Homo sapiens: one gene and its partner. The protein of the gene in region 1 interacts with the protein of each later gene in a pairwise test. Each region holds a gene or a part of one and is shown in the gene's direction. Other genes may lie near its edges.

Region 1 (9,116 bases):
CCTGTAATCCCAGCACTTTGGAAGGCCAAGACAGGAGGGTCACTTAAGGCCAGGCAATGCAGTGAGACCCTGTCTCTAAAAAATAAATAAATAAATAAAATCTATCGAAGTGTTAACTCTCCTCTTCCTAGGGAATTTATCCAACAGAAGTCCAGGAAGATCAAGGCGGGAGGATCACTTGAGGCCAGGAGTTTGAGACCAGCCTGGGCAACAGAGCAAGACCCGCATCTCTAAAAAACAGTAAAAAATTAGCCAGGCATGGTGGTGCACACCTGTAGTCTCAAGTACTCAGCGGTAGGACTGCGAGGCTGCAGTGAGCTCTGACTGTACCACTGCACTCCTGCCTGTGTGACAGAATGACATACTGTCTCTAAAGCGGAAAAAAACAAAACAAAAAACAGCCCAGGAGCCAGGGAAGACTTTTAACACATATTTTGTTGAATGAATGAATGAAGTGATCCAGGTTTTTGTGTGCATTTAATTTCACCTCTAGGTGCTGATCCAGTTTGTGGTATAGTGTTCTGGAGGTCCAACGTCATCTACTTCCTGCCCTTCAGAGGTATGCTGATGTTGTGTGTACATCAACATCAGCACAGCCTCCTGAATGAACCTAAATTCAGTTAACACAAATTTGCATTAAAACTAATATTAGGCTTTGGATTAGGTATCTGAGTTGTTTTGCATGTTCTCCATTGCTCACAGATTTCCTTATCTCATTTTTCAGAGTCTTTTGAAATGGACTCTAATCTACTAATTCATTCCATTTTGACCACTCTCTTATGTGAATTGTTGGAACCAGACTTCTTTGGTCACCATTTTCTAGATATGCATTCATATTTAACGTTGTTGGGCTTCCTAAGTGGTGATTTGGAAGGCCTTACTGAATTTTATTTTCCTCTCATTCACAGACAGATTAAAAAAAAAAGCTTTCCATTTTTAGGCAAATTCTTAAACTTTATTAGCCTTAGTTCCTCATTCTTTTTTGAGACAGGGTCTCGCTCTGTTGCCCAGGCTGGAGCACAGTGGTACCACCATAGCTTGTGACAGCCTTAAACTCCTGGGCTCAAGTGATCTCCTGCCTCAGTCTCCCCAAATAGCTCAAACTACAGTCACCCAACACCATGCATGGACTAAGTTTTTAATTTTTTGTAGAGAGAGGGTCTCACTATGTTTAAGACCAGCCTTGAACTCCTGGGCTCATGCGGTCCTCCTGCCTTGGTCTTCCAAAGTGCTGATAGCACAGACGAGAGCCACTACGCCCAGACTAGTTTCCTCATTCTTAAAATGGGAATAACAGAATCTAAGAGTTGCCTGCGGTAAATGAGATTACACACGTACTTATCACGTGGGCTTCCAAATGTCAGCTCTCTGATGCGCTAGCTGTGCAATCCTGTGTAAGTCTCCTAATTTTCAGGTCCCATTTCCTCTTTTGTGAAACGTGGCCAAGGGAGAATGGACTTTGCAGTGTTTGTGTTTCAGTCTAAGATAATACTGTCTACTTGGGATTGCAGTCCAGCCACCACTTACCAGCTATATGCCCTTGGGCCATACTTCCTCTGCGCCTCAGCTTGAGCCTATCAATGACATCTAAGAGCTGTTTATCCAGTCAGGAGTTGCTTGCCACGGCATAAGATGTTGGTTCCCTTGAAAATGCAACCCTATAGCTTAATGTCACCCACTGTTAAGATTTTCCAACACTTGCTTACCATGTAGCTTTCTTGTGGTGAAACTCTAAAGTTATTTCCATTTACCCAAAAGCAAACCTCAGTGTGTACATATGGAATGGCTGGGATTGAATTGTGTGAGGAATACACAGATTCTTGCCTTGTTTGGAGACCACTTCTGGTGGGTACCCACTAAGGAGTTGCTCCTGGACAGTGTATTTCTTTTTCCTCCTCCTGGCAGGCAAATATGAGTCACATCTGAGTCTCTTGACATATGGGAGTCGAATCGGGAAGATATTCTCTCTCTTGTTAGAAATCTTTGTTCCTATTCAAAATTTAGAAAGAATATTTGTCATGAATGTGATAGTAAGTTGTAAAAGGACTCCCAAGGCTCTTGTAAAGGAAAACTCATGTCATCGTGTCTTTTTTTTGAGACAGGGTCTTGCTCTGCTGCCTAGGCTGGAGAGCAGTGCTGTGATCATGGGTCACTGCAGCGTCAATCCCCCCCGGCTCTAGCCATTCTCATGCCTCAGCCTCTTAAGTAGCTGGGGCTACAGGTACACACCTACCACCCCTGGCTATTTTTTATTTCTTGTAGAGATGGGGTCTTACTATGTTACTCAGGCTGGTCTCGAACTCCTGGGCTCAAGCAGTCCTCTGGCCTTGGCCTCCCAAAGCGCTGGGATTACAGGTGTGAGCCACTGTGTCTGGGCTCGTGTCATCATTTCTGATCTCTTGTAATGGTTATCATGGTGCCAGTATCAGAACGATAATTTTGGACAATGACCAGAGCTTGGGATATAAATTCTTGTAATATCTTTAGGGGGTTTTTAATCTTACGCCCTTGTTACAAAATGAAATGCACAACTCCTTGGTCAATCATTGAAAGTTTAAATTCTCCCCTCTTGATGTCTTTGTCATTTGGTAACACTGGTAATCTTGCAGCATCAGATCACTGTCCCACAGTCATCTATGCACTGTAACTTCAAATAATCAAGTTGTTGCAAGCAGTTACTCATCTTAACAATCTAGCTACCAGCCTGTATGCCCTACCTTATTTGTTGGCACAACCTTGGAAAGCCCCAAACGAGATTTTTGTGGTTTTTATTTCACCCCAACTTCATCTTGCAGATTTACTGTCCTACATACTTCTGATCTTGTCTCTTCTCTATCCTTATGACCAACGCCCTCATGCATCATTTCTTTTCTATTTCAGGGGTATGTTAAGTGCCTCTTGGTCTTAACTTTCTCAAATCCATCCTAAAATAGAAAATGATTCCTTCCTGGCTTAGAATCTTTCAATTGCTCCCAATTTCAACTTCTGACATCATGGTCCCATCCTCTCCAAAGTCACCCCAAGTAGTCATACTAAACTTCTGGTTCCTTAAACTAGAAATCATATTCATGTCTTGGCCCTCTGTTGTTTGTATGTGCGAAATCCCTTTCCACACATTGTAGCCTGGATAACCCAAACTTCCCTAACATTTCCCCCACGCACAGGCAAGCTGATCTTCTGATATATCTCTGCCCTAAATCGTGTCATTATTTGCTTACATCTGTTTCCCCTAAGAGACGCTGAAGTCTTTGATGGCAAAGCTGTGGCTCATTCCTTTTTTTTTTTTAATCTCCATCACTTGTTAGTGCTTGCTGAATTAACAGATGTAAGGAGTTAACTTACTGTTGCACTAGCTCAAACATATTTAGATTGTTACCTCACAAATAGCTTTTTTTTTTTGGAGACGGAGTCTCGCCTTGTCGCCCAGGCTGGAGTGCAGTGGCGCGATCTCGGTTCACTGCAGCCTCCGCCTCCGGGGTTCAAGCGATTCTCCTGCCTCAGCCTCTCAAGTAGCTGGGACTAGAGGCGCGCACTGCCACACCTGGCTAATTTTTTTATTTTTAGTAGAGACGGGGGTTTCACTATGTTGGCCAGGATGGTCTTGATTTCCTGACCTCGTGATCCGCCTGCCTCGGCCTCCCAAAGTGCTTGGGACTACAGGCGTGAGCCACCATACCCGACAGCCTCACAGATATCTATGTCCATTTATAAATATATATAAAAGCTTTTGGCCAGGCGCAGTGGCTCATGCATGTAATCCCCAGCACTTCGGGAGGCCAAGGCGGGTGGATCACCTGAGGCCAGGAGTTCGAGACCAGCCTGGCCAACATGGTGAAACCCGTCCCTACTAAAAATATAAAAATATAAAAATTAGCCGGACGTGGTGGCGCTTGCCTGCAATTCCAGCTACTCGGGAGGCTGAGGCACAAGAATCGCTGGAACCCGGGAGGCAGAGGTTGCAGTGAGGTGAGATCGCGCCACTGCACTCCAGCCTGAGAGCAAGACCCTGTCTCAAAATAAATAAAAGCTTTTGCTATTTGGTGTAAATAAAAGCCAACTTGTACACGGTGCTTACTGTATACCAGGAACACAAATTCATTAAATCCTCACAACTTTGAGACAGGCACAAATATTATCTGTTTACTAGTGAGGAATTACCTACGGTTTACTAGTAAGGAACACTGAGACCCACAGGTTGTGACTTGCTCAAGGTCAAGCTGGTGGAGCCAAGACAAGGTGCAGGCAGTGAGTCCTGCCCTAGAGTCTGACCCGAACCACATTTAACGTCTATGTGGTGTGTAGGTTATTGCCATGAGTAAGAATCAGAATTGTTAACGCGCATTCCAGGAAGGCAGGGACACCACTGAGTGTTACTGCTGTACTTTAGGGGCCAGAGCAGGGCAGGCTGGATGCGCGGAGGAAACTCATAGTTAGGTCAGAAGCCTGGCAAGACAAGGGAATTTTCTGGTCGTCGTCCACCTCTCCAACCTCACATCCTACTAGTCTTCCAAGAGGATTCTAACTGCACATGACTCCCTAGTTTCCGGCTTCTCTTCCTAAGGAGGGTCTGCGGCCCGTCTGCACCACCCTCTCCCCACAGTCCCGTTTTCCTGTCCATGCTTGGATGGATCCAGCCGAGCCGTCAGCCGCAGCTGCGCGCTGCTCCCCCGACTCGCACCCCCTCGGCGAAGCGCTGCATTTTATGTAATTTTCTGCCGGGCTGCTGGCTTGTGGGGGATGTGGCTGGGTCTCGGCAGCCTTCAGCGCCGCAGACGCTCCGGCAACGCCAGCATACGAGGCCCCCGCCCCAGGAGCGCGGGTCCGGGCGGCGTTCCCCTCTGCGGGAGGCGCGGCGAGCCAATCCTCACTTTAAAAGCTTTCCTGTCCTCGAAGCGAGGGGTCTTCCGTGCGGGGCAAGACGCACTGGCCCCAGACGACCGGTCCGTGAAATGACCCTTCCGAGCGACCCGGAGCGGGCGACCTTGCCCAACCCGCGACTCGGGGCCCCTGCGGTCCCGCGTAGAGGACCCAGGTCCCACGGGGGGCGGCGGTGAATCGCCCCCTCTTGTGGCCGCGCTTCCGCCCCCGGCACCCGCCCGCTGCTGGGCCACCCGGCGTCGCGCTGCCGCCTCACAAAGCCCGGGCAGCCGCCTCATTGCGCGCAGGGATTCGGACCACGCGCCCTCCCCTCCCCCACTCGCTGCTGCGGCGCCCAGGTCTTTGCCTCCGCGTCACTTTCTCCTCATCGAGTCCCCGGAGGCAGAGAGCTGAGCGAGGTTCGCCTCCCCGGGCGGGACACGAGCTCCGGTCCTCTCTTGGCGCAAACCCCCGCCCCCCGCGGAGGGACTACTTTTCGTCTCCCGCGGAGGAACTACTTCCTCCCCCGCGGAGGCGTCGGTCCAGGCGGCGCGCACGGTATGGCGGCGGCGGCGGCGGCGGCGGCGCGCGCCTGAGAAGAGGGGACGCCAGCCCGGTCAGGCCTCGGCGCGGCCTACACGCTCCGCTCGCTCGCTCGCTCCCGCCTCCCGCCCCGCGCCCGGCCATGGCGGAGCCGTCGTCCGCCCGACGCCCGGTGCCTCTCATCGAGTCGGGTAAGACGCGAGGCCGTGCCACCCCCGCCCTGGCGCTCCCGGCTGCTTCGGCTTCCCCGGCTCCCCGGGCTCCCCCGGCTCCCCTGGCCCCGTCCCCCTCCCCTCCCCGCCGGGGCTTGACCTGACTCCTTGTCTTCCCGCAGAGCTGTACTTCCTTATCGCCCGGTACCTATCGGCGGGCCCGTGTCGGAGAGCGGCCCAGGTGAGTGCGGGCCCGCGGGCGGCTGCGGACTTGGCGTCCCCAGTGTCCCCGCCGCCGGGGGTCGCGGGTGGTGGGCGGGGGTGAAACGGGAGCGCCCCGGGCCCGACCCCACCCCTGACCGCGCGTCTCTCGGCCGCAGGTGCTGGTGCAGGAGCTGGAGCAGTACCAGGTCTGTGCGCGCCCGTCCCCGCGCTCCCTCGGGTTCCTCCTGCCGACCTTGCCCTGAGGGATGCTCGCCCGCGCCCCCCGCCCGCCGCCCGCCGCCCGCCCCCGGCCCCCCGCCCCCCGCCCCCCCCGCGCCGGAGGGGTGGTCACTCGTGTGCGTTTCGTGTCTTTCCAGTTGTTGCCGAAGAGATTGGACTGGGAGGGCAACGAGCACAACAGGAGCTACGAGGAGTTGGTGAGCATTGGGCACGTTTGCTCCCCGGGTTTTCCGTGCACCGCCCCCCGCCCCCGCCCCTTCCCCTCGCGGGGACCCCGGCCCGTGGGGTGCAAAGTGTGACCCGCACTGGGGGGCGGCCCGGGGATAGCTGCGTTCCCGGCTGAAGATTTTGTTTTGTTTTTGAGGCGGCCAGGTTTGTTTTGGCAGGAAACAGTCATTGGGGGCGGCGCGGGGCGGAGCGGTGGGGGCGACTCGCGGAGGTCCTGCGGCAGGGGTGGGGCTCCAGGTGCGGCCGCCTCTGCGGGGGTGTGGCGTGCGCAGCCAGCCATTCAACTGGGCGGTTTCATTCGCTTCCCCGCTCCACCGCGCTTGTAACTCGCGCTCTGATTGGCCTCGCTGCTCTTGCCCCGCCCGGGTCTGTCCCCCCACTTGTTCCCTAGGAATAGAATCATTGGTCTCTGAAGGTGGAGAAATGTTCTTGTGTTGAGCTTTTTATTTTTTGTTTTGTCAGCAGCGTCATAAAAATCTTGCAGCTGTATGAATATGCCACTGTAGTGCTTGTGCTCCTTTCTACTGTACAATATTTGTTGAACGCAGTAGTTGATTGATGAGTTTCACACTGATCTTGTAGATAACACAATAAAGTGCTTTAAATAGGCACTTTTCTTTTGAGCTCGGTTAATCTTGCATTACAGTCTCATTTCTTTTGTGAACTTGGTTAATGTTTCTATATAACTTGCTTTTATCTATAGTTACAGCAGTTGCAGGGATTCGTTTGTTTTTACTGGAGACATTTTTCAGGAATATATTTTTGCCGTTTCGTTATTAGGATAAAGGAATTCATTAATTGCCAGGCCATATTCAGCATCTTGTATAAGGAAAACAATTGAGAAAGAAAAGAGCTTCTGAGTGATCTTTTACCACAGTTGGAAGACCTGTAACACTTGAGTGGTAGAGTATGGTGGCAAGTGAAAAGAAGAAAAAAAAGTGGTAGAAGATTACTGGTTTTGAATTAGACAACAGAAGAGACCAGAGGATGTGTTATTTCCATGAACAGTTAACACTTGAAGCCTGGTGCAAGTAATAAATAATTTTAATATTTGCTTTCTTAGATTTTGAAGTAAACACTTTAACAGTGGATGTTTTCAAGGGAATGAGTTCTAAAAATTCTGATGGCAATGTGTTGAGTTTGACATTTTGAGATAGTTTATTTTTGTAAACGTTGAGGAAACATTTAAAGGATGCCCTCTTTTAGTTTTCTTCACGGATAATATAGCCTTATCGGTGAAGCGGAAAAGCATTACTGGTTATGACGCTGTTGTCGTGCTACCTGAGAGAAAATAACTTGAAACAAATGTAGTGCTGTAACTACTGGAAAAGTTACTTTTAAAATACATTTATAGGGGCTGGGTGCAGTGGCTCATGGCTGCAATCTCAGCACATTAGGAGGCCGAGGTGGGAGGATCACTTGAGGCCAGGAGTTCAGACCAACTCTTGTCTCCACAAAGAATAAGTAACAGAAAATTAGGCGGCTGTGGTGGTGCGTGCCTGTAGTCCCAGCTATTTCGGAGGCTGAGGCGGAAGGATCACTTGACTCTGGGAGTTTGAGGCTGCATTGAACTATCCTCCTGCCACTGCATTCCAGCCTGGGAGATGGAGCAAGGCCTAGTTTCTTTTTTTTAAAAAAAAAATTTATATAAATTTTTTGGCTTTTGTTGGTAGAATTGCTTAAAACCCTACTTACTATTGTTTAAAATCACTTAAATTCTGTGATAATATGGCTGTGATTTGGCTATGACATATGGCATCTATCATTGCCTCCCTGATTTGGTCTGTCTGGTGGGTGTCCTTTCTTTTTTTACCTTCCTCTCTGCCCTCCAGTCCCCCAGGACTGAGTGATGATGAGCCTCATGTGTAGAGAATTATTCTTTTGTTAATGGTATATGTATCGTTTCTAAACTTTCAAAGTCTTTTAAAAATACCTTATTAAGAAGTATTCCAGGCCAGCTGCGGTGCTAACACCTGTAATCCCAGCACTTTGGCAGGACGCTTGAGGCCAGGAGTTCTAGACCTGCCTAAAGTGAGGTTGAGGATGTAGTGAGCCCTGATCAAGCCACTGTGCTCCAGCCTAGGTGAGCGAGACCCTGTCTCGAAACGCAACAACAAAAAAGAAGTATTTCAGATGTACACAAATGAGAATAATGTAATGCACCGCTGTATATCATCAAATTTGAATAATAATAATTTTTTTTTTTGAGACAGTCTGTTTTGAGGAGCAGCCTCGGCTCACTGCAACCTCTGCCTCCTGGGTTCAAGTGATCCTCCTGCCTCAGCCTCCTCAGTAGCTGGGATTACAGGCACCTGGCTAATTTTTGTATTTTTAGTAGAGATGGGGTTTCACCCTGTTGGCCAGGCTGGTCTCGAACTCCTGACTTCAGGTGATCTGCCTGCCTCTGTGTCCCAAAGTGCTGGGATTACAGGCACCTGGCTAATTTTTATATTTTTAGTGGAGAAGGGGTTTCACCATGTTGGCCAGGCTGGTCTTGAACTCCTAACTTCAGGTGATCTGCCCGCCTCTGTGTCCCAAAGTGCTGGGATTACAGGCGTGAGCCACTGCGCCTGGCCAACAAATTTGAATTTTGAAAGTTACTAACTTGCTATATTTACTTTGGTTTCTGTTTGAGGTATACATATGTTTTAAGAAACTATCAATGGACATCTTCAAACAAAAATAATAGAATAAATGACCCACCCACTAGGTGCCCATTTTCCAACTTCAGTGATTATCAGAGAATGTTGCATATTGTCTGCTCCCTTGTTTTTAAGCAAATTCCAGAAAGCCATTCATTTCACTGGTTAATGTGTTGGAATGTTTTAAGGCAGATTCCAGACACTACATTTCATCTCTAAGTTTGTCAGAGTTCATCTCTAAAAAATAAGG
Region 2 (7,485 bases), on another chromosome or scaffold:
TTATACATTATCTCATTAAAATTCTAGTATTTTCGATTTAGGTTGTGTTATGCACACTTTACAAACAAGGGGATTGAGATTTACAGAGAGAGAGTAACTTGCATAAGATCACGTAGCTACCAATGGTGTCATCCAATGGAATTTTCTTCAGTGTTGGAAATGGTTCTGTCTGTGCTGTCCAGCATAGCAGCCACAAGCCACATGTAACTGAGTCTTTGAAATGTAGCTAGTGGACTGAGGAACAACAGTTTAAGTTTTTTTTTTTTTTTTTGAAATGGAGTCTCGCTCTGTCGCCCAGGCTGGAGTGAGTGCAGTGGCGCAATCTCGGCTCACTGCAACCTCCGCCTTGCTGGTTGAGATGGATTCTCGCTCTGTAGCCCAGGCTGGAGTGCAGTGGCGCGGTCTCGGCTAACTGCAACCTCCGCCTCCCGGATTCAAGCGATTCTCCTGCCTTAGCCTCCCGAGTAGCTGGGATTACAGGCGCTTGCCACCACGCCCGGCTAATTTTTTGTATTTTTTAGTAGAGACGGGTTTTCACCATGTTAGCCAGGCTGGTCACGAACTCCTGACTTCAGGTGATCCACCCGCCTCGGGCTCCCAGAGTGCTGGAATTACAGGCGTGAGCCACCACACCCGGACTAAGTTTTATTTACTTGTAATTATTTTAAACTTAAATTTCCACTTGTGGCTAGTGGTTACCATATTGGAGAGCAAAGTGTAGAACTTTTTGACTCCCAAATCTTTCACATGTAGCTTGGTCATATTGCTCTTTATTTTACTTTGAGACAGACTCTCGCTCTGTTACCCCGGCTGGAGTGCAGCGGCATGATCACTGGCTCACTCACTGTAGCCTCCACCTCCCAGGCTGAAGTGATCCTCTCCCCTTAGCCTCTCCAGTAGCTGGTACTACAGGTGTGCACGCCACCATGCCAGGCTATTTATTATTATTATTGTTTTTTTGTAGAGACAGGTCTCACTAGGTTGTCCAGGCTGCATACTGCTCTTTAGATCTCTTAGTTCATTTTTCTTTCTTCTACGATATCAGAAGTTACATTCAGCCCTTAAATGGAATTTAAAGACTGAGTTAGCTATAGCTCAACTTTGCTTTCATATGTAGAGTGGATAAAATACGCACATTATTTGTTAACTCTTTGGTTTTAAAAACAATGTTTACATGTCATAGTTAAAACTGGTGGAAAAATCTTTAAATTGTATCTTTTTTGGTTTAATATAGGAATTGTGCATAGGAATTGCTGAAAAAGTAGTCAGAACTTGTTGGTTATTTTAGTGTAATAAGAGTACAAATAGGAAGCAATATGAAAAGTCACTAATAGAAAGCTGAAAAAAACGATCCTCTCATACCCGCGTCCATCCGTTCATTGGACAGTTCTTTTCAGACTTTGTAAGTATCAGTAAACCATTACTCACTTTTCCTTATGTAGCTGCAGAAGTAACCTGAAGAATTAAAATTATTCTTTTACTCTCAGTGTATAGAAATCAAATATCAAACACATTGGATTCATCCATGAATTGGGAAGAATATGTGTAAGATTAAAACAGTAAGAAAGATCTGTCCGATGGCAGATGTTCAAATCATTTTCTGATTAGTGGATTTAATTTAAATTCATTGAATTTTAGAGTTTCATTTGCTAAAAGGAATTTCAACAACTTTCTGATTTTGTATGGAATAGTGAAAATTCCAACTCTTTTTTTTTTTTTTTTTTTGGTGTGCTACCCTCAGGAAAAGGCAAATTATAATGTAATCTCTTTTTATTAGGATTTTTAAGAGGCAACTGCCAGGTTCAGTATAAATATATCTGAATCTATTGTATCTTCCATAGTTATGGTACTGTCCTGGGATAATTGCAGTTCATAGTCTTAACTCTAGACATATCCTGGAGGACCTATGTCTGTAAATTATCTTTGAATTGTTCTATGTTATTTTAGTGTTATGTGAATTACATTGCTTCCAGCTCTTTGAAAATCGTTAATTCAACTGCAGGTAAGGCGTCAGTTACTGAGACTGTTCAGATAACTGAAACATCCTGTTCATACCCATTCCTGACCATTGGGACCACTGTACTATTTTCAAGGATAAGATACCACTGTACTATTTTCAGGATAAGAACCATGTTATAAATAGAATTATAGTGTCCTAGTGAGTGTGACAAATATAGGAAACATGATTTAACCCATGACATATGGTTTGATTTGTAGGACATCCCCAAGTGCTTAATACAAATGAGAAATGTACTATAATCTTAAGGCATAAAGATGTTTAAATGATGGACAAAAATTGAGGGCCACATCTGAGCATCAGTTTGAAATCAGAATATCTCCTCTGTCAAGGAGTGACTTTACTTTCTAGCTGGGTCCTTGATAAGCTTTTGAATCTCTCTGAGTCTGGGTTTCCTCATTTTAATATAAGGAGGAAAGATCTAACTCGTACCTTTTCAAATGGTGTCACAAGGGATTAATGAGTCAGTGTATTGAGAAGTGTTTGGCAAAGCCTTATACAAACTCCATAGTTCATTATATTCCAGAGTTTAAAACTGAGCTGGTGCTATGGTATTTCTCTGCACATTTTCAGAGACCTCCAAATTGTGCTTGGACAGTTTGAAAAATGATTTATTTTTCTCTTTGTGATCAGTAAACAAGGTCCAAGCTTTAGATGTTGTATTTTATTTTACCCCACTCCTAATGGAATAGGTGATTTGTGACCTCTGCAAAGTTGTACTATACATAAGTTGTCCCATATCTGTGTTTTTGGGAAGCTGGTCTGTAGCTGGGCTAGTGTTGCTGAAGTGGGCAGGCCAGGCTTGATTCAGGGCTGTTTTTGAGGTGGCGGGAAAAAGTGCAGTCTCTTAGAGGAACGTTCAGTACTGAATGATAAAGGAATAAGGTTTTAGGCCTTGTATGTTACCTTAGCCTATTACTTGAGCTTTCAGCAATTACAGCTGAGAATGGAAAAGAATCGTATTTTCAGTGTAGGGGAGTCTTTGCAACCTACCTGCCTTTCCACTTTAGAAATCACAATTGCCTTTTCTTCTTGTTAACGAGGTTAATCCATTAAGTGGGATATTTATATGGTAAGACATTATTTTCAAGTAAATTAATTCTCACTCTTAAGGCTGTTGAGAATTCACTTAGGTGGTTGAGGAGAAGCTTTGTACTTTAGTTTACTGAGTGTCTCTCTCTCTCTCTCTCTCTCTCTCTCTATATATATATATACACTTTGCCTTAAAATATATATTATGGTTATGGCATTATGTGTTGTAAAGAGGGAGAGAATGCTTGAATTATTGTGGCTAGATAGGGGCAGGTAGACAAGCACAGGCCCAACTGGAAGGATGACTTGATGGTAGTTGAGCACTTTGCAAGGTACCTCCAGTGAGATGCCAGACCCTAGTAACAAGCTCACCTGGAGGGGAGTTTGTTTGTGGTGCAGGTTTAATGTCAAGGACCAGTTCTTGGAAACAGAAGGTATGTGGGGTGCCAGTTGAAGATCAGGGGACAGAAATGTTTTTAAAACCACCAAGTATAAATCACATAAGATCGATAGACAGTCGTGATCAGCCATCTACATACAGATGAGGATGTTTGTCAGTTTGAAAATGGATCGATTGTTGAATTTTTCTTTGTTTCTCCCCAGTTAAGATATGCAAGTTTAGCATTCTGTAAGTGTTGGATCAGAATTTCTGATGCCCTTGGCACTCACTACTCAGTGTCAGTTTAGACATTGGCTCCTAATTTTTTTTCTTTTTCTTTTTTAAGATACAGTGTTTCACTGCTGCTGGAGTGCAGTGGCTCTATCATAGCTTACTATGGCTTCGAACTCCTGGGCTCAAGTGATCCTTGAGTAGGGCTATAGCTAGGACTATAGGTTCACGCCACCATGCCTGGCTAATGTTTTTTTTTTTATTTTTATAGAGACAGGGTTTCACTTTGTGGCTCAGGCTGGTCTCTAACTTCTGGCTTGAAGCAATCCCCCCGCTTCAGCCTCCCAAAATGTTGGGATTATAGGTTATGAGCCACCTTGCCCGGCCCTGTTTTGTTTTTATAATATCATTAAAATACCTCATCAGTTTCAAATAACCATTTTGCAGGGTGGTAGGGGATTTTTCTGAGATGGTGTTGAGTCACAGTGTTATTTGAGGTTCTAGTAAGTATCAAAGTGTGTCTTGTGTTAAATGATTCTATTTGAGCTTAAAATGTAATTTCATTTCAGTTACTTGTTTATTGACTCAGAATGCATTTGTTGAGATCTAGACCAGGTTCTTTGTTAATGGAATGTTCTACTCTGTTCTGATGTTTTTGGAATCTTGTATAGAGAACAGTGTCTACCACCAAACTCCTAAGGCTGGATGGTGGTAAGTTCAACTCTTTGCTACCTTCTGAAATTTGAGAAATAGTAAAATTGGAGCACCTTCAGGCTGTGTTAGACTTTAAGGCTTCTAAATTATATTAGAATGTAAGGATACATCTTTGTTTTGACCCTGGAAAGAGTAGTAAAGATTTTCATAAAGGCCAACTAGTCATAAAAACTTACTTAAATTGACATGATCCTAACTCACAATTATGAAAAGCTTTCTGTTGAAATAATTGTGTAGAAAGTGATCTTTATACATGAACAAAGGTGGGATGTTTTAGAAATAATTGAAGATTCTAAGATCCCAGGAAATATAATGGTTTAATTTATTTTTAAGGGATTTAAGATTCCCCATAGCCTATGAAAGAGGGGTCTCTATTAAAAATAACGCCATTGTTCTAGATGTAGCTAATTAGGGATTTGCAATTATCTAGGCAAGGCTAGGATAAAGTTTGGCTGCCTATTCTGTATGAAAAGGTTTTACTGTAAATATCAAGTTTAAATAGATCTTAAGAGGAATATTTACCTAATTAAAAGAACAAACCACTTTTAAGCACCTTGGGAAAATCAATTTACTTAAAAGCAGTGTAAAAATGCAGAATGCATTCACTGATGCTGGTCTGCTGGTGGTCTTTTCATAGAGATACAGGAGCCCCTGGAAAGTCAGTGCTCTCTGTGGATTGCCATGAAATAAATATTGATTGACTCAATGCTATTATGTGAACTACAAACAGTTTACCAGCAATGGGTAGAACTATATTATTTGCTTGCAAAATACATCACAACAATAAACACAATATCTGCCTCCCCCACCCCACTCCACTCTACCAATAGACTCCAACTATGCCTATTTATTGGTTTTGGAGTTTTTCTATTGACATTTGTTTTGCTACTTGTTAACTTCTTTTGTCATGTGTAAGCATTTGATGGCAGATTGGGGACAGCAGGTGTTAAAGGTTTAAGAGCATCATTATTGCTTTTAGCTTCATTTCTTCTGCCTTTGTGTTTGGGCAAGATTGTGGAGAGTCCTGAGTTTAGTATTTAGATAAGGTAATTACATGTCCTTCTCCTCTACTTTTACTAAAGCAAGATCCTCCTGGGCAGCTTAGTTCCAGGTACTGTATGAACTTGCCAGTAATAAGAGTAAGTTTCTTTTAAAAGATTTCTGGATATTTTACGTTTTATACTCAGTCACTCAGATGCGAGGTTTTCTAGTATGTGTCTACTTAGGGGTCAGATTTGACCAGTTTTTAACAGTACAAGTTGTACATATAGGATACTTAATGTATTTCTAGGATATTATGCTTCATTTTCTCTTAGTATTTTAAAGGTTTTAAAAAACCCATTCTATACCTTCTATATCTTTTATTGTTTAAGTCATTCAATGGGAAAGAAAATAATAAAAGTCTTTAGATGCTGTTTCTGATTTTTCGATCATGGTTTTTTTAATCTCAAGAAAAATAATTCTGATTAAGAAATAGAGGTAAACATTATTCTGAAGTAGTGAATTAGAGAATACTTAAATATATTGAGCTGGAATCCTTGTGTATTGCATGTTGGGAATGTTAAATGATAAAGCTACTGTGGAAAACAGTTCTGTAGTTCATAAATATTTACACATAGAATTACTATATGATTCAGCAATTCCATTCCTATTCCTATACGCAAAAGAAAGCAGGGACTCAGGTACTTAAAAGCCAGTGTTTATAGCAGCATTATTGACAATACCTAAAAGGTAGAAACAACCCATGCCCATCAACAGATGAATGGATAAACAAAATATGGTATTATATATTGGAATATTTTGGTACAGTGGAATATTATTCAGCCATAAAAAAGAAGGCAGTTCTAATACATGCCATAACATGAATGAATCTTGAAAACATTATGCTAAGTGAAATAAGCCGGACACAAGAAGATAAATATTGTATATATCCACTTGCATGAGATGACTAGGATAGGTAAATTCATAGAGACAAAAAGTAGAATAGAGATTACCAGGGCTTGGGGGAAGGGAAGATGGAGAGATAGTGTTTCATGGGTTTAGAATTTCTGTTTGGGATGATAAAAAATTTCTGGAAATGAACAGTGGCGATGGTTGTACAACATTATGAATGTATGTAATGCCACTAAGTTGAATGCAGAAAATGGTAAATTTTTTGTTATGTATATTTTATGACAATTAAAAAATGCAAAAGTAAATATTGAAGATGTATCCTACACAGTCTCCATATGCCTCTTTACTCCCCCTTGGTCTGCTTCAGGCAGGTATATAGTTATTTTTTCTTCATCTGGCTGTTGCAGTGTAAATGGAGATTTCCCTAGGCCATTTTTTGGAGATCAGAGAGTTTCCTTATTTTATTAACTGACTTAAATTTAAGAGGAAAATGTTTAAAAGTAGATCTCTGGAGGGGAAAAAAGGGCATTTTAATATTGAGATGAATCAGGGAGTTTGTTAATATTGGCAGACCATGTAAGCACATGAAGATAATCTATCCTGAATAGCACAGCGAGTCATTTAGAAATCCAGTAGTAGGTGTACACTCGGACCTGTCACATTTTCTAACCTTTAAACATTGTTTTTTGTTTCTTTTTTTTGAGATAGAATTTCGCTCTTATTGTCCAGGGTGGAGTGCAATGGCGCGATCTCGGCTCACCCTGACCTCTGCCTCCCAGGTTCAAGCGATTCTTCTGCCTCAGTCTCCCGAGTAGCTGAGATTACAGGCATGCACCACCACCCCTGGCTAATTTTGTATATTTAGTAGAGACAGGGTTTCTCCATGTTGGTCAGGCTGGTTTCAAACTCCTGACCTCAGGTGATCTGCTCGCCTCTACCTCCCAAAGTCCTGGGATTATAGGCATGAGCCACCGTGCCTGGCCTAACCTTTAAACATTTTATTCATTCTTGACATCATTAGTACTGTGGAAAAACTTTGATTTCTGTTTAAGAGAAATGGTGTAAGTCATCTCTGTACTCATGTTGGAAATGCATTAGGTGTTAGAATTCTTTAGTTCCTTAGACTGTAAAACCAAGTTACAAAAGGGATAGAGTGAAAGAAAACACATAAATTCTGTTTTATTCATCTGAACTTGTCTCTGGCATCTAATGATTGCAT

Evidence for each region.
Region 2: the proteins of BRWD1 (region 1) and FNDC3B interact in binary tests that used the Homo sapiens proteins (3 or more experiments, as listed by UniProt).

The regions. Positions count from the first base shown.
Region 1 is NC_000021.9:39,309,918-39,319,033, reverse strand, and holds the start of BRWD1 (bromodomain and WD repeat-containing protein 1), read left to right. Parts: upstream 1-5,401; 5' UTR 5,402-5,542; coding exon 5,543-5,591; intron 5,592-5,734; coding exon 5,735-5,793; intron 5,794-5,932; coding exon 5,933-5,962; intron 5,963-6,133; coding exon 6,134-6,193; intron 6,194-9,116. UniProt on the Homo sapiens protein: May be a transcriptional activator. May be involved in chromatin remodeling. Plays a role in the regulation of cell morphology and cytoskeletal organization. Required in the control of cell shape.
Region 2 is NC_000003.12:172,042,578-172,050,062, forward strand, and holds part of FNDC3B (fibronectin type III domain-containing protein 3B), read left to right. Parts: intron 1-7,485. UniProt on the Homo sapiens protein: May be a positive regulator of adipogenesis.